Linked DNA regions of Homo sapiens: regions 2 and 3 are each reported to be linked to region 1. The links are microRNA targets in miRTarBase. Many come from high-throughput screens and were not tested one by one. Region 1 holds a microRNA gene; each other region holds the end of a gene's coding sequence.

Region 1 (7,562 bases):
TATACTTGGCCTCATTATTTGTATAAAGTGCAGCAACAATAATTATTTTTCACATAGGCTTTTAAAATCAGCTTTGATGGAATTTTGTTCCTTAGAAGGAATCTCAGATAAGACTTTTTTAAAGCTGAGCCCAGCCATGGGTCTGTACCCTCAAATATCTATATGAGTTGGGTAAATTTCTCTCTTCTTGAGATCCCAAGATAACTTGGGGCTCCTGGACTTGTCATAAAGTGACATTCTTTACTTACCACAGGTCAAGAACCCTGTACAGGGACTACGTAGACAATGTATGAGGCCAGTTTTCCTAAGGGGCTTTTATTGGCACTGTAAGTCAAGTTTGATTCCTTAAAGGAAAGAGTGTCATTCCAGTCAAAGCCTTGGTGAAAAAAAAGTTTCTCCAATTGTGTTCTGATACAAAAGAAAACATTCTTATTGCATTTATGCAAATAATTATATTGCCATAAGTTAAAAATGCTCACAAATGGTTTCTGAATTTTGGAGAAATTGGGCAGAGAGAAACAAATATGCTTCAAATTTTGTTCACAGGAGTATACTTTACTCAATTGTTAAAAGCTGTTAATAGCTCAAAAGAAAAATTTCCTTGGCTCTGAAAAACAAAAGAAAGGATCAGCAACGTTTTAAGCCAAAAGTTAAAAAAAGATTGCTTCAGTCTTCTGTTAGGTCAATCCATGCAGTTAACTCCTGTTTTGCTTGATATTCATGAACATTTCAGCTCTTCATGAGTCCTGAAAGTTTTTTCCTCTATTTTAATGTCACAATTTACAAAGTTATTAGAAACCTACATTCAATAACACCTGTTAGAGTTCTATAATTGATTATAAAACCACCTTCTAAAGAGGACAAAGACAAGACAACAATTGTCCGTGGGTGACAAAACACCTTAGGATAGCCTCTATTAAAGCCACAGTTGACTAAGAATTTTGGTTACTTCTGTGGCATACAACAATTTTTACATAACAATTATAATGATTAACAACATACACTAAGTCATATCAGAATTGTAGGAGTTTCCTGTGATTTTGGAACATATACCAATAACATATTTATACAAATACAGCCCAAAGAAAGCCAAGCGCCATTTCATATTTGACAGTGCTTCCTGTATGATTTTTATACCAAACAAGCCAAACTTCACCATTGAATTAGTGCATTATTGATGTCAAACTCAATTCTTTTTTTTTTTTTTTGAGACAGAATCTCACTCTTTTGCTCAGGCTGGAATGCAGTGACGTGATCCCAGCTCACCGCAACCTCTGCCTCCCAGGTTCAAGCAATTCTTCTGCCTCAGTCTACCGAGTAACTGGGATTACAAGTGTGAGCCACCACGCCTGGCTAATTTTTGTATTTTTAGTAGAAACAGGGTTTCGCCATGTTGGCCAGGCACAGGGACCTCAACAGCACATGCCAGTGAGGATGGGTCTCAAACTCCTGAACTCAGGTGATCCACCTGCCTTGGCCTCCCAAAGTGCTGGGATTACAAGCATGAGCCACTGTGCCCAGGATCAAACCCGATTCTTAATAAAACTTTATAGATAAATCTATCCAATTTTAATGTCTGACCATAAGGTAAGGTTCTTATAAACCTCTTAAAACCCTTTACAATTTTTGTTAAAGAGCAGATTAGTGTTCTAAGAAAACTCTGTTGTGCTTTTATTCCAGTCTTCAATTTATGGATAAACTGAATAATACCCCTTTAATTTTAGCTAATATGTTCACACACAGAATTTCTTTTACAAGATTAATTTTTCACAAACCTTCCACAACTTGTTCAAACTTCAACTTTTTCCTATCTAACCTAAAACAATCCTTTAACCCTTAAATCTAGGCAAAAAAAAAAAATCCACATTCACATGCCTTTTTATAATCTTTTACCAAAAACACATTTCACTTTCCTTGCATGTAAAACTGATTTACTTAAGTCTCATGAACTAAAAGGCATTTATACTTTTTACTTTTCTGACAATATTTGATTTAAGCACCTATTATTTTTAAACCAGTTAATCAAAATGCTTTCATATCACACACACAACCCATATAAATACACAGACAGGCAGAATAATATTCAGTAGTTGTTAAGATTTTTCATTTGCCAGTTTCTTAAATGGATTATGGGTTTCAGGGTAGAGCGCTTGGAGGAACAGGCCCAGGAAAGCACACAGTTTCTAGGGCATCATAAGCAGGTACAGCCAAAGTTGGCCAATTGGTGCTGCAGTCTATTTCCTTTGGGCCAGAGTTTCCTCAGTATTGTCCCTTCAGGGTTCACCTGGAAGATGTTACCGGGAAGGAGTCCCAATCCAGACCCCAAGAGGGAGTTCTTGGATCTTGCCCAAGAAAGAATTCAAGGCAAATCCAAAGAGTAAAGTGAAAGCAAGTTTATTAAGTAAAGGAAACAAAAGAATGGCAACTCCATAGGCAGAGCAGCCGGTCACTTTAAATTCATTTCTACAACCTAATTTTTGACATATTTTAGATGCCAGTTCATTTACTGTAAGGCATAAGATTAGACTTGTTGGCATCAAAGGACTGTGACTTCTAAATGAATGCATATAATAAAGAGATATTTTGCCTGCAAGGCCAATGAGACCCACTTAGGATGGTCTTAGGCTCAGCATTATCCTTGAACAGATTTATGCATATTTCTAACTTTTAAATTTTCATTTACATTTGTTTATTTTATTATACTTCCCAAGAGAAGATTTTCTATAGAAGTTTTATTAAATTCTTCCTATTGTACCTAAACTCTGTCCCCATTGTCCTTCTCTTGCTCCAGATTGTCATATCTCAGACTGATGTGTCTATCAGAGGCACAGGGACCTCAACAGCACACGCCAGTGAGTCAGTCATCAGATTATAGTAGCCTGGGAATGGGGTGAATACAGGCTTGAAGTGGACTAGTATCTATTTCCAAGGAGGCCCAATCTATTGGGTAAGCCATTGCAGCAAGTGTTTCTAGCTAACAAGATGGTCAGAGTCAGGCAGGGGGGCCTTGCTGTGATTCTGGGTTGACCTTGTTTGGAGCTAGATGACTATAGCCAGCATCTAGGAGAGAAAACTGGTTCAAGTCACTAGGCTTGGAAATGTCATCTTGCCAGACCCTCTTATGGTCTTGACTAACTGGGCTGGGTTTATTACCAGTAGAGGAACAGACAACTACATCAGGGCAGAAGCCCAGGCACATGGACATGGAAAAACATATGCATCACTGAGGAAGAGCCTAGAGCTTGATGTACACACAGATGCTTGAGGTTCACCCTGGTCCATTGGATACTGGGTCTAAAATATGTTTTCACATTGGTAATTCTAGGCCTTATCTGCTCCTGGGGGCAGAGGTCCCACCAAATGGTGCCTGCATGGGTCCATACTGACTGTACTTGAGAGAGGCTAAGGGTCCTATAAGACTGGAGAAAGAGGGTTGATGGAAATAGATTAGCCTTGATTGCCTGGAGAATGCCAGCTGGTTTTCAGCCCCCAATACTTTGGAGCAGAATTAGTTAACTTTGAGTGATGGGTGGATCTTTCTTTTCTTCTAATTTAACTTGCTGTTCATGTTTAGCTTACATACAGTATTGGGTCATTTTTTGCATAACTTTTTTTTATTTCTAACAGACTTTATTTTTTAGAGCAGTTTTAAGTTCACAGCAAAATTGAGCAGAAGTTATAGCCCTTGCCCCACGCATGCACAGCCTCTCTGGTTATCAGCATCCCCAACCCAAATGGTACATTTGTTACACTTGATTAGCCCACATTGATTGACACATAGTTATCACCTGGAATCCATAATTTACATTAGGCATTAGGGTTCACTCAGTGTTTTTTTTGTTTTGTTTTGTTTTGTTTGAGATAGAGTCTCGCTCTGTCACCCAGGCTGGAGTGCAGTGGCACGATCTTGGCTCACTGCAACCTCTATCTCCCGGGTTCAACCAATTCTCTGCCTCAGCCTCCTGAGTAGCTGGGATTACAGATGCCTGCCACTACGCCTGGCTAATTTTTGTAGTTTTAGTAGAGATGGGGTTTCACTATCTTGGCCAGGCTGGTCTTGAACTCCTGACCTTGTGATCCACCCACCTTGGCCTCCCAAGGTGCTGGGATTACAGGCATGAGCCACCATGCCTGGCTCACTAGGTGTTTTTAAAAGGAAAAAAAATCTCACTTACTTTGAGAAGACTCTTGTGCTTTCACATGTATAAATATAAGCACTAAAATCACATGAACATACATTCATTTGAAGTTTTCAAGGAAATAATCATGAAATGTTTCAGATTATTATTTAAGTAAAAAATTTTTCTAGGAATGCATGGACCCCTGAGAATTTAGCCACAGACTCTCAGGGATTTGTGGACCTCAATTGGAAAACATTGCTGTAGAACAGTAGTTCATTTTGAACTCATTTTTGCAAGCTAAATTTTGACATGTTTTAGATGCTAATTCTAGGAATGTTCTCCCTTTTCTAAGAAAAGTCCAAGCATTTTTTACCTGCTCTAAAAGAATATCAACGGCTTTTATGTTTCAGAGACTGGATGCAAGAGATTGTTTAACAAATCCCATCCCATCCCTGAGAATGTGTCTAGGCATTTGCTCTTTGCAAAGCCAGATGCAACATTCATAATAACTAAGGCTATCTTCTGGCCAGCACTGCAAGTGTATCTTTTGTCTACATTCTTAAGTAACCACATCAAATAGCATCAACCCACTTGGAAATAATTTTGAAGTGATTTGGATCTCTCTTGTATATTTTCCCTATAAATCCCTAGCCTGGTAGGCGTGTATATTTTCTGCTGCAATATTTAATGCTTAGTTCCTTGCCTACATCTAAGAAATATTAATTTTAGAAGGAATTGGATACTGATATTGGCAAATTTTTATGAGACTGGCTAAAGGAGAAAGAAGAAGGGGACCTGTGATAGAATCTTCCATGACAAGGAGGAAATACTGGCCTCAGTCTCCTGCAGAAGCAGGAGCTCTGGTACACAGGTGGGGTGCCCACTGGTACAGCTCCCATCTGACATGAAGCAGGCAAGCCAAAGGGGAGCAAGAGCAATGCAACCTGTAAGACCCATCCTCAGACATTCTGCTATTGCCCCCAGACAATGGAAGGGGGGCGACAGCTGTCCATGGGGGCACTGCTAAGAGGGTGTTGATCAGCAGATCAGGACTGTAACTCACCATAGTGGTGGACTGCCCTGATCTGGAGACCACTGCCTTTCGAGAATAATTCACCCTACAGAAGCTATCTGAGCATCACCAGACAGGGTCTTCCTGGGAATTAGCACATATCCCAAATTTCCTTCAGCTTTGCCTGCCCACAGTCCCCTGAAAGCCCTCCCTTTTTCTGGGTGTGAGAGGAATGGCTGGGCATCCCTTGGCTTATCCTCCTTCTTGCCCACCATAGCCAGCATCTCAGAGTGAACATGCACGAGGGAGGTAGAAAGACTCCATATCCTTGTTCTTTACAACTTAGAAAAGCCTAAGTTATAGGAGAGAGATAGCACAATGGAATGCTGAATTAGAGGTAAATAATTGGTCTGTTTTTTTTTCACCAGTCTAGTTACTACTATTATGTAAAATATCTAATTTTACATACCCTAAACACCCATACCCAAACACCTTGACAAAGGAATCATTTTACCTCCCAAACATAGTCAGTGTTGATTTCACAAAATATCCCTAGAATTACTCTTTCTGAGGCTAACAGGACTACTTAGATGGTTCCTAAAGTCCCTTCTAACTCCTGCATTCTCTGGTTAATGAATCAGCATTAGTCATGTGGAAGGAAGGTATCCTCCTCAAACTCTTTTTAAGAATGATCTCAAGGAATCCAGAGTGCTCATTAAGTTGGTGAAAGAGTCAGTGCAGAATGCAGCTCATACATATATCCTGATGTGATGTTGGCACCTCTCAAGAAGCTGGGAAAGATGTCCAGGCTGGTCATAGGACTCAGCCCCTATTATGGGTCCAGCAGCCAGTAATAGTAAGCAATGTCTACTTCAAAAGATATCTCTGGCCAGGTGCAGTGGCTCAATCCCAGCACTTTGGGAAGCTGAAGCGGGAGCATCACTTGAGCCCAGGAGTACAAGACCAGCCTGGGCAACATGGCGAGACCCCATGTCTACCAAAAAAGAATTTTTTTTTTTTTTTAGACAGATTCTCACTCTGTTGCCCAGGTTGGAGTGCAATGGCATGATCTTGGCTCACTGCAACTTCTGCCTCCTGGGTTTAAGCGATTCTCCTGCCTCAGCCTCCCGAGTAGCTGGGATTACAGTCACACATCACCATGCCCAGCTAATTTTTGTATTTTTAGTAGAGGTGGGATTTCACCATGTTGGCCAGGATGGTGTCTAACTTCTGACCTCAGGTGATCTGCCAGTCTCAGCCTCCCAAAGTGCTGGGATTACAGGCGTGAGCCACTGTGCCTGGCCAAAACAATTGTTTTAATTAGCTGGCCGTGGTTGTGCATGCCTGTAGTCCCAGCTACTCAAGAGGCTGAGGAAGGAGGATTGCCTGATCCTAGGAGGTTGAGGCTGCAGTGAGCTGTGTTTGCACCACTGCACTCCAGCCTGGATGACAGAGCAAGACCCTATTTCAAAAAAAAAAAGATATTTCTGAGGAGCCATGCTCATTCAAGACTCACTGCTCTTAGAAGAGGTGTTAATCTGGCCAGGTGCCGTGGCTCACACCTGTAATCTGAGCACTTTGGGAGGGTGAGGTGGGAGGATCATCTGAGACCTGGAGTTCAAGGTCAGCCTAAGCAACAGACTGAGACCCTGTCTCTTAAAAAAAATAAGAGAGAGATGTTAATCTATATTAAACAATTGAATAGTGTGAAGATTTTGTAAAACTTTTTAAATCACCGATTATACAAAAGCTCTTATTGAATTATTAAGGAGTTAGCAATTACTATTAATGCTGTTGAATATGAGTAAGAACCCACTTAACTTCAATCAGAATCCATCGATCAAGCTTAAAGCCTTATCTCATAGTTCCCTTCCTGGTCTGTCAGCATTGCCTCATAGAGAGGGAAATACATCCCGCATCTGCCTCATCATGAACTTGGGTGGCCACCAGGATATTGCTCATGAAAGCTGCTTTTCTTTCTTTTTTTTTGTTTTGAGACGGAGTTTCACTCTTGTTGCCCAGGTTGGAGTGCAACGGTGCGATCTCGGCTCACTGCAACCTCCGCTTCCCAGGTTCAAGCGATTCTCCTGCCTCAGCCTCCTGAGTAGCCGGGATTACAGGCGCCCGCCACCACACCCAGGTAATTTTTTGCATTTTTAGTAGAGACGTAGTCTCACCATGTTGGCCAGGCTGGTCTTGAACTCCTGACCTCAGGTGATCTACCCGCCTTGGCCTCCCAAAGTGCTGGGATTACAGGCATCAGCCACTGCGCCTAGCCCGAAAGTTGCTTTTATAAACAGGTTCAAGGCCGGGAAATCCATTCTCCTCCACCTCCCAAAGTGCTGGGATTACAGATGTGAGCCACCGCACCCAGCCAGTTCATAGTTTAAAACAAAGATGATAGCAGCCCCTTCTCAAAACAAATCTCC
Region 2 (7,457 bases), not on the chromosome of region 1:
ATATTTTAAAATATAAATAGATCTTTATATAAAAGATATTCATATTTATAATAATAAATCAGAAACCTTCCTATATGTCTGACAATAGTGAAACAGTTGCAAATGGAATATTGAGCATAGAGTAGAAAGGAATGAGAATGAGGCAGAATATTATGCAGCCATTGAAAATTCATGCTGATGGTGGGGCACAGTAGCGCACACCTGTCATCCCTACACTCTGGGAGGCTGGGGAAGGTGGCTCACTTCAGCTCAGGAGTTCGAGATCAGCCTGGGCAACATGGTGAAACCCTGTCTCTATATTATAAATTAAGTAAATAAATAAATAAAAGAAACTTATGCTGATATGGACAATGGAAATTTAGAAAATTGTCTTTAATGTAATGTTTAAATGTTTAAAGTATCATCTATACTGTAATTACAATTGTATAAAATAATTTCCCATTTAGATAAGGAATGGAAAGAAATATAGGAAGAAAACAGTTGTGTCCAAGTGATTAAATTGTGGGTCATTAATCTTTATAATAATTTCTTTTGTAGCTGCTATAATGTTGAGTTCAAATAAATAAAACTTGGAAAGAAAAGGAAAACACTCAAGTGACACATTTTTCCATGCTAAGCAGAAAAGTCAGTGATACTTGGGAACAGTCCACATTTTTCCTTGCTCCTTCAAAGCAGCCTCTAATCTTGACCCAGATGGAGGGAATACTCATGTTCTTCTTGCTGGGAAGACTGTACTGTGGGTTGAATGGAACAGAAATCTCAAACTTTCCAGTATTGTTTGGTAACAAATGCAAAATGCATTTGAACCATTCATTGGTATAGTTTTTCCGTGACAAATATTATGCACAAAAATCTTGCAGACAGAAAATGATGTATTTTTTCTCTCCCCCCACCCTTTTTCTCTCTCTTCCCTCCAATTTCTGCAGTTCTGCTAAGCCAATATTCTCTAGAATGAGCACAAAACAAATCGAATAACAGCTAAACAAATCGAATAACAGCTAAACGAATCGAATAACAGCTTTTGTACATCAACATCAAGAAGGAATACGCCTGAGAGAGATCAGAGTATATAGATGAATATGAACAAGAATGGAACATTCACTTGTCAACGCACTTTCTAAATCTAGATCAGCAGAGATGGGAGTGATTTTCTGGAAAGAGATGTGATCATGGATTAAACACCAGCTCATTGGAAACTCATTGGATGAGATCAGAAAACGTTCATGAAAAATCATATTCAGGAAATAAGGAAGAGGAATATAAATGCTCTAGAGTTAACATGTAAAATATATACGTACTGAGGTTTGTAAACTGTCCTTTTTAAATCAAACTGAAAACAAAAAGCTTTAACCTTTCAACAGAATTTTTAAAAAGGCAGTTAGTTCTAAATTATTCCTATCTCAATAGCCAAGAGGCTGATCAAGCGTCATTTATTGAGGAAGCATCTTAGAAAATGCCTCTGAATGTTTTCATAGGAGCCGTGACCTTTGGTTCTTCATCTCTACCATTCATTTACTTCACTGTGTAATTAGTTACAACCACTCAGTTATTAAGAGACGTAACGCTTCAAACTTTTTACCAAGTCTGTGTTCTGTTTAATCTGTCCATACAAGTTATTACTGAGAAAGTGTTTATGCCATATACTATTACTCCATCAAGCTGTATATTACAGGAAGTACATCTTTACATCATAGGTTCCCAAGCAACATAGATTTCCCTATCTTTCAGGAAACAGCATCAAGGAACTCTGAAAAATATAGAAAAAGTTCATTTTCACCTTGGAAGCTCACGTGTAATATTATAGGCTACTATCAAATAAACACTTTTTTTCTAATTCTCCCTAGTATATGCATAGGAATTTAATATACTTTATAAATAAGTATCTAAAATGTCTCCTACTTTTTTCCTATTTCTTTGCCATACATGTTATCAGAAATCCATGTCTTCTATTTCCCTTACTGATGGGCACTCATTTTTATTTTTTTAAAAATCATTCCATTAAACATATTTCTAAATAATAGTAAGTGGTACTAACAAAATAAATAATAATTTAATAGCCTTAGAAATAAATGACTGTATACTTATACAGGTTGAAAAAAACTCGGTAGGAATAAGTTACCTTTTTGTTTACTAATGTTGGTTTCAAAAATACTCAGATTCATTTTAGTTGGCTGACATCTGGAAGTAGTTAACAACTAACCAGTGGACTTCAACAATCATTTGCTCCCAGGCTTCCCCCATCATCACCCTCACCACATATCCTGCTAATATCCAACAACAAACAAATATTTAATATTGAAATAGCCCATTGCCTGAGAATGAACACAAGCTAAAATACATGCAAGGGTACTTAATGGAAGCCAAACCATGTTCTATACCTAAGGAGAAAACATGGACATGTAGAATGCTTTTATTCATGTATTCAAAATCAGAACAAATCAGTGTATATCACTAGAACATCAGATGGAGGATAACACAAGAAGTGATACAGATCAGGGTTCACTTCTCTTACCCTCTCTCTGTTAGGACCACATTCCTATTTTAGCCAAATGTTTCTGGTACGGGCCATCTTTTCACCATAAATGGCATTATGTTTCAAATGGCTAAAAGCATATTATGGGTATGCTCAAAGGAGTAAAACCCAATTCACAGAGATGTGGCTTTTCTAAAGAACCAAATTAAGGGAATACTTAGTATCTACAACTAAAGTATTAGTCATTCTGAGGATTATTTGTTGCTTTAAGTATTAGCTCCCTACTACATCCATAACACCCTACTTACTAAATTTAATTACACACAACTTTTCAAGAATTCGTATTTTATTTGAAGGGAGGTACCTGTCTACTTTATCTACAATAAAAACAAAGGGTATTGGCTTTCTCTAATCCATGCAAACTACAAATTCCATCGGGAGTCCTACATCACTAACAGTGGTATGAACAAAACTAAGAAAGTACTTCCTATCCACATGTGAATGTTTTAAAAAAGTTTTTGCCATAAAACCTAAGTGTAATTTAGCATACCACAGTGCTCTGAAGATGGGTCATTGACGATGTACCATTTGTATATAGGTAATACACATGTAAATCACTAATTGTTAATTAAATATAAGAAGTAGGTTTTTATCTTTTTAAAAAAAAAACAAAAAAGGTGACTCCCTTTCTCATTCTGTTCTGTTGTATTGCGTCCAAAAGTTGTGTGTAATTTTTTTAAGGTCCAAGAAATGTAAAGAAATTTGTTGGAATACCTGAATTTCTGTAAAAAAATAAAAATAAAAATAAGATTTTGTTACTTAAAAGAATTTTTGGTGGTGTGGTACATATTTGGTGCATTCAGTTTCTGTCTTTGTCCAGTGATCTGGTGACAGCTGATGGTTCCACTGAAGTAACTATCTCGGAAAATCTCCCTGCTGTTGGATTCCATATCTGTCAACAGCAGGACTCTCATGTAGAAGGCATGGTTAACATCTCCAAAGCCTCTTCTGGCCAAATGTAGGAATATCTCCAGCTAATTCTCCATACACTCAGTGGAATGAAATTGATAACTAAATAAATAGCTGGACTACTCAAGTAAAACTTGACCTGCAATATCCAATTGCCCAATCTCCCCTTTGCAAATTGAAAACAACCAACCATTCCTCGCACATGAGCAACCCTTCATACTGGGTATATGAAGCAACAACACTTCATACTGGGTATATGTTGTCTGAGTGGGTTCCAATCCCTGATCCTTGGTTTACTATATGACTCTGAACAACTCTAAGCCTCAGTGTCCTCACTGGTAAAATAGATATAAATAATATTACTCAGCTCCATAGCATTGTTGTAAGGATATAAATTAAACTATACTGTTGTTGTGTTTGACAGGTAGGGGATATTCAGTGAATGTTCATTCCTTCCCCTCCTACTATATGCAAGACACTGAAGGAAGAAAAGAAACATAAAAAAAAGTCTCTGCTCTGAAGATCCTGAAGACAATTAGAGTGACATTTATAAGCAGGGATTGAAAATTCAAATGCGTACAAGGGCCAATAAATTCACAAAGCAAGCTCAGCTGGGGACATAATAGGGCGTAGTAGGAACTGGCCTGGCACAGTGGCCTCTAATCCCAGTACTTTGGGAGGCTGAGGCAGATGGATCACTTGAGTCCAGGAGTATGTGACCAGCCTAGGCAATATAGTGAGATCCCTTCTCTGAAAATAAAAAAAAAAAACAACAATAATTTTTTAAATAAAATAAAATAAATTTTTAAAAGGAAGTAGTGGGAACTGTGGAGCACTGAAGAGCCTAGGTCCCGTCTAAAGGGAATAAGTAGTCAACGCTCAGCTCTAATGATTCAAGAAATATGTATTGAGTTCCTACTATGTGCCAAGAACTGTTCTAAACTCTGAGAATATAGTGGTGAATCACACAAAACCCTGCTTTCCTTTCATAGGTCTTATGTTCTAGTAGGGGAAGACAGACAATAGACTGGAAAATGTCAGCTAATAATAGATGCCCTAAAGAGAATTAAAACAGGGTGATTGACAGAGAAATGGAGAGAGGAGTCAGGTAAGGCCTCCATGAAAAGGTGGCATTTAGAGTGAGACCTGAACAAACGTTTAAAAGCCACGTGTGAAAAAAGCAGAAGGCATGCCAGACCAGGAACGGCAAGGTGGCAGAGTGGGGAGCCACGTGGGCTAAGCTAGGACCCAGCTCTGGGCTTTGTAGGCCAGGATAGTTTGTACATTTTAAGTGTGAGAAAAAGCCACTGGAGGATCTTAAGCAGAAGAGTGATATAAACTATTTCACATTTCTAAAAGATTACTTTTGGTTTCGGCATCTAGCAGTATAAACTAGATACTCTAAAAAGCCTTTCTTTTTTTTTTTTTTTTTTTTTTTTTTTTAAGACGGAGTCTGGCTCTGTCACCCAGGTTGGAGTGCAGTGGGGCGATCTTGGCTAACTGCAACCTCCGCACCACCATGCCCAGCTAATTTTTGTATTTTTAGTAGAGACGGGGTTTCACCATGTTGGCCAGGCTAGTCTTGAACTCCTGACCTCATTATCCACCCACCTTGGCCTCCCATAGTGCTGGGATTACAGGCGTGAGCCATTGAGCCCAGCCTCTAAAAAGCCTTTCTTATGCCATACTATTAAATCTTAGATAAATTACAATAAGTTTATTTTTAACACACAGCTTAGATTATAAGAAAATAAGGGAAATTCCAAAAACATTTCAAAAAAGAAGTGGAGTGAGCTGAAAACTAAGTGTGAAATGTAAGCAAAGGCAAAAACTGGGCTTGCCTGAAGGTAAATCTGTATAACAAAGTAGGGAATGGAAGATTAAGCGTTGGGCCACTGGAAGCAGGTGAGTTAAATTTGACATTCACATCCAAAAGCAGGATGCTTGAAGATGGCTACATCCTAGGCAAGAGTGGTCTAGGAAAAATCCTCATGCTAGCGAAAGAAATCTATCAAGAACACCATCTCCACACTGGCTCTAGATGGAAAAAAAAAATAATAATGACCCCTTGAAATTTATCATATGCCTGCCCCCGTCAAGTATGGAATTCAGTCTTACACTCTCCATATGATCAAAGAAACCCCAACCAAGAAATTAAAGAGCTTTTTAGGGCCCCTTGTACCAGGCAGATACAAGCATTTGTTGTCTAGAGGAAAGCATCTCTCGCATAGCTCTCACCAATTAAGCTCAACAAAGTATGCAATTGCAATTTTAAAATTACTAAATATGGCTGGGCGCGGTGGCTCACGCCTATAATCCCAGCACTTTGGGAGGCCGAGGCAGGCGGATCACGAGGTCAGGAGATCGAGACCATCCTGGCGAACACGGTGAAACCCCGTCTCTACTAAAAATACAAAAAGAAAAAAATTAGCCGGGCGTGGTGGCGGGTGCCTGTAGTCCCAGCTACTCGGGAGGCTGAGGCAGGAGAATGGCGTGAACCCGGGGGGCGGAGCTTGCAGTGAGCCGAGATCGCGCCACTGCACTCCGGCCTGGGAGACAGCGAGACTCCGTCTCAAAAATAAAAATAAAAATTACTAAATATACAAATAAACTGTAAGCGATAATCAGCAGATATAACTAACAGCCGACTTATCACCCTACAGATTTTAGATAGTGGAATTACCAGATACACAATATAAAATAATCATGTTTTACATGTTAAGGAAATAAAGACAGCGTCTAAAACAATGAATACAATAAAGAGTACATTACATATAATCAGATAGATTAGAAGGAAATTTTTTAAGTCTTAGAAATTAAAACTATAATCACTGAAATTTAAAGTACAATGTGTAAATTACAAACAGGTATAACTGAAGAGAGGAGCTGTGAACTAGTAGACAGATCTAAAGAAATTACACAGAATACAATACAAAAAGCCAAGGGGTTGGTAAATGACAAAGAGGTTAAACAACAGAGAAGACACAGACATCTAACCAGATTTCCAACAGGAGAAATAGAGAGAATAAGGGAAAGGCAATATTTGAATAGAAAATGTCTGAAAATTTTTCAAAAATGATAAAGATATGAATCCACACATATAGGAAGCACAATAGATATCAAGCAAGATAAATATAAAGGAAGACATGACAGTAAAAATACAGGGAAAAACAGAGGAACTACCATAACAAGAACCAAAGAGAAATGGCATACCTCAGGGTGCGTGCCTGTGGTCCTGGCTACTTGGAGGCTGAGGCAGGAGGATGGCTTGAGCTCAGGAGCTCTGGGCTGCAGTGCACTGTGCCCATCAGGTGTCCGTGCTAAATTCAGCATCAAGAGGGTGACCTCCCTGGAGCGGGGAACCGCCAGGTTGCCTAAGGAGGGGTGAACCGACCCAGGTCGGAAACGGAGCAGGTCAAAACTCCCGTGCTGATCCTTTGCACCACCTGCAAAGGAATAATTTCTGGGCCAACAATAAATACCAGACACATTAGCATGATATATTTAAACTGCTGAGATAAAATAACTGTCAAAATAGACAGAGCGCACTGGCTCATCTCTCTACTCCCAGAACTTTGGGAGGCCAAGACAGGCAGATCACTTGAGGTCAGGAGTTCAAGGCCAGCCTGGCCAACATGGTGAAACCCCATCTCTACTAAAAATACAAAAATTAGCTTGGCGTGGTGACGTGTGCCTGTAATCTCAGCTACTCCGGAGGCTGAGGCACAGGAATTGCTTGAACCCCGGAGGCGGTTCTAGCCTGGGTGAGAATGAGACTCTGTCCAAAAAAAAAAAAAAAAAAGAGAGGAAAAGAAAAACAACTTGGCATTATCTTCTACAACTGAACATTTGCATGCACTAAATTCATCAGTTTTATTCCTAGGTATATATGCTGGAGAAATTCTTGCACATAAGCACCAAAAACCATGTACAAAAATGGAAAACCTTCGTCTAACAGATTGCTAAAAATACAAGGAAAATGTCCATCAACAAGGATAAATAAACTATTTACAAT
Region 3 (7,557 bases), not on the chromosome of region 1:
GGTGTCCAAGGAAAACGGCATGATTTGATACTGGGGCTTACTCTGCTCTCATTATCTGGGACCCTAGGGTAAACTCCTAGGGTAAGGCTCAGGGCTGGGGGGGTGGGGGGAGCATCCTGGGGTATCTAAGTGGGGTAACTGAGCAGCCTGGATGCCTGGGTTTAGAACTGCCTACCTTCATTGTTTTGTGATGGAGCCAGCAGCCGCGCAGTGTGATCCAAAGACGCCTGGTGGAGGGAAACCCGAATTGGCTTCAGGGGGAGCCTCCCCGGATGCAGGACCTGATTCATGGCCAGGAGAGCAGGAGGAAGACCAGCAGGACAGAGATTCCAGCTCTTCTGGTCAACTGCAAGGTGAGAGGCCTCCCAGGGACACACTTTCATTAACAACCCTGCCTGCACTCACTTCACCTGCTCTCCTTTCTGCTCTGCCCTGATGGGAGAGGGAGGGAGGGAGAAAGGGCACCTCTCTCCCTAGCCTGGACCTAACCAGGATCCTCTACCTCCTTCCTCCCTGCCCCAAGCCATGTCTCCTCGGTGCAACTCCATCTGTCACCACCATTACTCTGCCCCCCTTCCTTGGTCAAAATACAATACTTAAATTAAGTAAGTACTCCTCAGTGTGCTCTACACAGACAAATGGTGTGTGTGCATGGATAACGTAATTCTGGAAAAAACTCATGTGTTCTAAGGCATTGGCCCTGTAATCTCTGGAACCACTTAACCACTCAGTCACTATTGAACATTCGCAATAAATTCCCACTGGTCCTCGGCCACCGTCTTTGCTCTGTGCTTCTTCTATGTGGATTGCTCTTCTTGCTCTCCAATCATTCTGGGTCCGCATTCTGCAAGCAAAAGCCCAGCTCAGATGTTACCTCCTCCTTGAAACCTTTTCTGATTTCCCCAGTAGGAAACAGCCTTTCCTCCCTCCCAACCTCTAAGGCATGTTACTCACGTCCTTTTTTTAAAAAAAAAAATTTTTTTTGAGACAGAGTCTCGCTCTGTCACCCAGGCTGGAGTGCAGTGGCATGATCTTGTGTCACTGCAGCCTCTGCCTCCTGGGTTCAAGCGATTCTCCTGCCTCAGCCTCCTAAGTAGCTGGGACTATAGGCCCACACTACCACACTTGGCTAATTTTGTATTTTTAGTAGAGATGGGGTTTCTCCAGGTTGGTCAGGCTGGTCTCAAACTCCTGACCTCAGGTGATCCATCCACCTCGGCCTCCCAAAGTGCTGGGATTACAGGCGTGAGCCACCGCACCCCTCGACTTTTCCGGTCCTTTTGTTTATTTTTTAGAGACAGATTCTTACTCTGTCACCCAGGCTGGAGTGTAGTGGCATGATCAGAGCTCATTGCAGCCTCAACCTCCTGGACTCAAGCGATCCTCCCACCTCAGTCTTCTGAGTAGCTAAAATTACAAGTGTGCGCCACCACAGCTGGCTAATTCTTTTTTTGTATTTTTAGACTACCACGTTGGTCAGGCTGGTCCTGAACTCCTGGCCTCAAGCGATCCTTCCACCTTGGCCTCCCAAAGTGCTTGGATTATAGATAGGTGTGAGCCACAGGGCCAGGGCATTCACATCCTTTTATAGACCATAAAACTTTCTGCCATATAGTAGAGTTATATTATACTTCCTTTAGACTCCTGAAGAATAGCATTCATTGATATACCTTCCGGTAACATATCTTATAGTAAATACTCAATGAATGTTTGGAATGAGAAAACGATGTGTGTGTATATCCAAGCGTATATCAAAATGTCTATGTCCCAAAGTAGGTGAAGTTGTCTTCCTTTGTTTCCAATAGCGAACTTCTTGGTTACTCATATCTGAGTTTCCTAACAGGGATTCCAGTCTTCTCATCCTTCCTCTATTCCTAACCTGGAGTTTTCGAACCAGGAGGCCATCAAACTCCCAAGGATTCCTCTAAACAAACAAATCACCGTTTCTCCATTTCTGGCAGATCTTCCCCAAACTTATGAACCCATCACATATAACCACTTTTTTTTTTTCCATTTTATTTTTTGTAGAGACAGAGTCTTGCTATGTTGCCTAGGCTGGTCTTGAACTCCTGGCTTCAAGTGATCCTCTTGCCTCCAAAGTGCTAGAACTACAAGCATGAGCCACCGCACCTGGTCCACTTCCTTTTTTGATTTATTTATCTGGGAGTTCTGCCCCTATTGTATGAGTCTCATAAAAACCAGTTTTTTTGTTTGTTTTGAGACAGAGTTTTGCTCTTGTTGCCCAGGCTGGAGTGTAATGGCGTGATCTTGGCTCACCACAACCTCCGCCTCTCGGGTTCAAGCGATTCTCCTGCCTCAGCCTCCCGAGTAGCTGGGATTACAGGCATGCGCCACCACACCCAGCTAATTTTGTATTTTTAGTAGAGACAGGGTTTCTACTAAACCCTGGTCAGGCTGGTCTTGAACTCCCGACCTCAGGTGATCCACCCGCCTCGGCCTTCCAAAGTGCTGGGATTACAGGCGTGAGCTACCGCGCCTGGCCCCGATAAAAGCCAGTTTTAAAGACAGTTCATTTTCTCCACTCATTTCTAGGAGGGAATCATCAATGGGCTGGGAAACTGAAGGATCCAATTCCAACCCATTCTCCTAGGGACTCACTGATTCACCACGATTCTTCTTTCTTAGTGCCAGGACCAGCTGCTTAGAGTGGCCGTTGACACAGGCACCCAATACAATCGGATCTCTGCTGGATGTCTCAGCCGCCTGGGGTAAGAATGTGGCCCAAACAAGCAAGTGGGGGACAGGGTTTCTTTTTGGGGTGATGAAAATATTCTCAAATTAGATAGTGACGACAGTTGCATATTTTATCTCAATAAAGCTGTTATTTAACAAAAGAGTGGCTAGAAGACTCTGGCAGAGAAGGCAAGGATTTAGACCCCACGTGAGGTCAGGGGTTGGAGATGAAACCATAGTAGAGAGGGACACCTGCTGATTAATGGGGTGGAACCCTCTAGGGGCTGTGGTAGCCATAACCCTTGCTTCCCAACCACAGGTTAGAGAAAAGGGTCCTAAAAGCCTCAGCTGGGGACCTGGCCCCTGGGCCCCCAACCCAGGTGGAGCAGTTGGAGCTACAGCTGGGGCAGGAGACTGTGGTGTGCTCGGCACAGGTGGTGGGTAAGTCCCCCCTTCTGCAACAGCCCTGGTGCTCACCTCACCTTTCTCTTTGGGGTGGGGCAAAGGCTGAGACTTTCACTCCCTGCAGCACGAGGAGTTCCCAGAGATGTTCTGACTATCCCCCATCTCTGTGCCAGTGTCCTCGGATCTGGGGATGGGGTGGGCAGAGAAGGAGCAACGGCTAAGAGGAGGGCAGCAGTGACCACTGGGAACCCTCAGCCTCTTCTGTTTTCAAATTGTTCCTATAGATGCTGAGAGTCCTGAATTCTGCCTGGGCCTGCAGACTCTGCTTTCTCTCAAGGTAAGGCACCCACTCAGGGCCTGACCCAAAGCACTGGGAAAAAGTAGTAGAAGGCACAGGTGTGGAACCTGGACCAGGTTCTGATGAGAGTGACTTAGAGATGGGCAACTGTCCCTTTGCTTCCTTAGAGGTTCCTTACTTACCACCAAGTGAAAAATCAAGAGAACTGGGTCACCCCCTTCAACAGGAGTCTAGGGAAATGGGGATGGGGGAAGAGCAAAAGGCAGGTGGAAGCTGTGGGAAGTGGGAGGGGGAACAAAAGGAGCAGGCCGGGAGGCAGGTGGCGGGCTGAGGTGACCTGGCATGACTGCTCTACACCCCGCAGTGCTGCATCGACCTGGAGCACGGAGTGCTGCGGCTGAAAGCCCCGTTCTCAGAGCTACCCTTCCTGCCTTTGTACCAAGAGCCTGGCCAGTGACTGCTGTCTCAGTCAGTCCCCAGAGGGAAAGACCTTGCCTTAGAAGAAGAGGCGTGTGGGGAACGGGGGCTCTTGAAGCCAGGTAGCTGGGGACTATGGTGTCTGCCCTTCCAATCACCTCCCTGACCCCTGCTGTCCCATTTTCCCCAGCTGGCCGCATTCCTCTCTGCTTCTCAGCAGCTGTCCTACTCCCCAGGACGAGTTTTCACTAGAGGGCCCACGATGCCAGGATTCTGATTCATCTTCCTCCCAAGAAAAGCAAAGCCAAATCAAGACCACAGATAGGAACCTAAGCACAATGGGGTGCCTGCTTGGGCTGGGTCGAAGGCTCTGCTGACTGCTGTCCTTGTCCATCACCCAATACCACCCCAAACACAACTCAACTTCCCACACCACCATGTCTCTCACCACACCTTCTGGGCCTCATTATCTCCCACAACTAGACCGCCATGCCTCACCAACCTATGTCCCTGGACCTCCTGGTGTCTGCCTCTCGGAGTCTGTGCACATCTGCTCACAGTTGAGTGGGGGAAGAAACAGCCAGAATTCAATACAACAAAGAGCGGGAGTTAGTATAGGAATGTCCATCTCATAAGGCTGAGAGCTATTTTTTCCTGTGGCTGCAAATGTCTGAAGCCAGTTAGTTTGATTACCCTGTGCAAAACCTTGGACATACTTCTGCTATTAACGCTATAGGTATTTATCCGTTTCCACTGGCTTTTTGTACCCACCGAGCCCCTGAGCCTTGCGTGTGTGTGTGTGGAAGAGCCTTGTAGAGAACTGCTCCTGTGAGGCAGACAGGACAGTGAGGTTGTCACCACTCAGACTTCACCTATTCAGCATTCTTTCTGATTTCTAGAACTATCCACCTCATTAGGCCTTCTTCCTATCCCCATCTCTGGCCTCTTGAGCTTAAGCTTGTATTGTCCTGGAATCAGTGGCTTTCTAACCCCCTGCCAGGCTTTGCCAAAGCAAAAAGACAGAGGCTTTTTTTTTTTTTTTAAAGTTTGGGGTCTGTCAGGAGACAGAGGCTTTTTTGAATTCACTGTGAAGAGAAGAACCCGAACCTTAAGACGCCAGATCCCTGAGAGTCTTTCTGGCTGGTTTGAGTCTCTCAAATCATGGATTAGGAGTAAAGAAAGAGGCCAGGCGCAATGGCTCATGCCTGTAATCCCAGCACTTTGGGAGGCTGAGGTGGGTGGATCACTTGAGGTCAGGAGTTTGAGACCAGCCTGGGTAATATGGCAAAACCCCATCTCTACTAAAAAATACAAAAATTAGCCAGGTATGGTGGTGAACACCTGTAATCCCAGCTACTTGGAAGGCTGAGGCATAGGAGTTGCTTGAACCTGGGAGATGGGGGTTGTAGTGAGCCAAGTTCGTGCCATCGGACTCCAGCCTGGGTGAAGGAGTGAGACCCTGTCTCCAAAAACAAACAAAAAAGGAGCAGAGAAAGACAGTGGTACAGCTAACCTGAACAAGGGAACTGGGACCGTTGGGCTGAAACAGTCTTGAGCCTGGGGTTGACTGGGTTAGAGAAGAACCGGGATGCAAGGAGCTGCCTGTGACACCTGGCCTGCCCTTTCTCAGCTGCCTCCCCTGCCCTTTCTCAGCTGCCTCCCCTGCCCTCAGAAGGAAAGGAGAGGGCTCACTTATCACTTGTGCCATAGCACCTGGTCTCAAAATCCTAAAAGCTTTCCTCGCCCTCACTGCCTTGCTCCACAAGGTCCACTTTCCTGGGTCTTGTGCTGTGCCTTTCCTTGTCTGCCTCCTGCTGCTTCTGTAACTGCAGACCCCAGGCCCAATGGCAAGCCCTCGGCTCAGCTGCTTCTCCATTGGAATAAACTCTTGTTTCTCTATGTCGATGTTCTTCTCTGGTCTTCCTCCCTGCCTATCAAGAGCTGAGTGATAATTGCCCATTGTCCCTTACAGAAAGGAAATGTAAATGTGGGCCCTTGCCCAGGCTGACCCATCTGACTAGGGTCAGTATAATTGAGAGGAATTTGAAAGCAATGGCTTTCAAACTCCTCGACCACAGCTTACCACAGCAGGAATACATTTTACATGGCACTCAGTACACACATGCACATATGACTAACAAAACAATACTTACCTACACTGAGAGCAATGTACTCTGCTATTTTCTATTTTACTTTATTCTATTCTACCTATTTAAAAAATGCTGGCCATAATCCACCAAAGGACTGCAACCACAGTTTGAAAAACACCGATTTAGAGCATAGAGAATCAAGAACAGACGGCACATAAATGACCCAAGATATAATTCTGATTGTGGTCTGGATCATAAACCCGCATCACATTTTAAATGTCTATTGTCTTGGAGACAATAAGCTGTTTTATGGGGGAATGGGTGGGTGGAAAAATGGGAGCAGGGCTTCTGAAGCTGACTAATACCTGAAGAATACGGCAACGTGAGAAAGCACTGACCCGGCTGCTTTGGTAAATGGAAGAAAATCATCTCAGGGTTGCTAGGAACATGGGTAAGACCAGACTGTAGAAAGATCCTTCAAAACAAAACAGTTTGCCATTCCTTTAACAATTACTAACGTCAAGAACTTGGAATTGTGCCACGGAAGACAGAGCTTAAGATGGGGTGGAGCCCTTACCTCCACTGCTCCCCTGGGCCTAAAGCCTGGTTTCCTTATGGGTGTTGGGGCCACACAAACAAGTCTCTGTTTTCAACACAGTGACAGTGGGGAGTGGGTCATGTCCCAGATGATTTGGAACAAGGCCAGGGTCCTATGACCCTGCTGGCATGATGGGTGAGGTCCATAAGGAAATGGGCAGAGGGTCAACTTGTCTCTTCTTTCACCGAAAAGACTGCGAGGTCTATAGTTCACGGTCACCCTAGGGCTGCTGCCATCTTTCATGCCCAGAGTCAAATCCTGCATTTCTGTAATGCATATTCCCTATCCTGCCAATACCACAGATACCTTTAGGGGGTAGGGTGGGGGTTCAGAAGAATCCTTCACCAGCTATGAGGCAAGTACAGCTAGGTGGGATCCTGGAGGCTTGAGGGAGCACACTGTGGTGGCTGGTCTGGATGGTAGAGCGTTTGGTGAAGCAGGGCACGAGTCACAGGGAGGTCGTCAGGATCTGAGAGCCAAGAAGGGGTGGGTAAGAGGCTGTGGGTCTCCTGGGCACCCGGGCCACTGGCTTTTCTGGGACTCACCCACGCCCAGCTCCTGCAGCATGCTGTGGGTCTCCTGGGCACTCGGGCCACTGGCTTTTCTGGGACTCACCCACGCCCAGCTCCTGCAGCAGGCTGTGGTACTCCGGCTTGGTCTCCAGCAGTTTCACCAGATTGGTAGACTCCATCCGCTCCAGCTGCACCTCCCAGTACACATAGATCTTCTGGTTGAAAGTGACATATACGAGGCAGGGGCTGTTGCGGCCCTCTTTGCAGGCGTACAGGCCTGGAAGATGTTGGCAGGGAGATAAAGGTCAGGAAGTTTCAGTGCCGACAGTGGGGGGCAGACAGCAAGACACAGACCTCCGAGTCAGCACTTTCCATCCTCCCACTGATGTCAGGAAAAAAATTAAAGGTTATTTCTTCTCTGTTGGGAACTCAGTAAAACAAGTAAGATGGGAAAAGACCTGGCTCACTTCAGATGTAGAAAAACCATAGTAACAAAACCCGGGCAGAATAGCATCCAAAAAGGTGCTATTTATTGCTTTTCCC

The links. The annotated mature microRNA hsa-miR-1288-3p reads UGGACUGCCCUGAUCUGGAGA and lies in region 1 at 5,193-5,213, shown strand. An mRNA with a match to its seed (bases 2 to 7 or 8) in the 3' UTR can be bound and repressed. Matches are read on the target gene's strand: a 7mer-m8 pairs with bases 2 to 8, a 7mer-A1 pairs with bases 2 to 7 and ends in A, and an 8mer does both.
Region 2: the mRNA of LHFPL3 is a reported target of hsa-miR-1288-3p. The part of its 3' UTR that is shown has no 7-base or 8-base seed match.
Region 3: the mRNA of ITFG2 is a reported target of hsa-miR-1288-3p. Seed matches in the 3' UTR shown: 7mer-m8 at 6,056-6,062.

What each region holds. Positions count from the first base shown.
Region 1 is chr17:16,276,866-16,284,427 of GRCh38, forward strand. It overlaps MIR1288 (microRNA 1288), which reads left to right and starts at 5,149; the gene lies at 5,149-5,223. All of the region lies in intron 2 of PIGL (phosphatidylinositol glycan anchor biosynthesis class L), which reads left to right.
Region 2 is chr7:104,905,261-104,912,717 of GRCh38, forward strand. LHFPL3 (LHFPL tetraspan subfamily member 3) reads left to right here. Exons shown (of 3, transcript NM_199000.3): 3 at 927-3,301. The coding sequence ends at 955. LHFPL3-AS2 (LHFPL3 antisense RNA 2) reads right to left here. Exons shown (of 4, transcript NR_027374.1): 3 at 6,656-6,816. It also overlaps the pseudogene RN7SL8P. Among named protein-coding and RNA genes, the nearest start is that of LHFPL3-AS2, 18 kb to the right of the region's middle. RefSeq lists a silencer at 4,919-5,075.
Region 3 is chr12:2,823,504-2,831,060 of GRCh38, reverse strand. It overlaps ITFG2 (integrin alpha FG-GAP repeat containing 2), which reads right to left. Exons shown (of 12, transcript NM_018463.4): 11 at 7,118-7,291; 12 at 5,985-6,971. The coding sequence ends at 6,868. It overlaps NRIP2 (nuclear receptor interacting protein 2), which reads left to right. Exons shown (of 6, transcript NM_031474.3): 2 at 201-353; 3 at 2,647-2,729; 4 at 3,014-3,135; 5 at 3,384-3,436; 6 at 3,762-5,713. The coding sequence ends at 3,854. Among named protein-coding and RNA genes, the nearest start is that of NRIP2, 7.8 kb to the left of the region's middle. RefSeq lists a silencer at 5,644-5,938.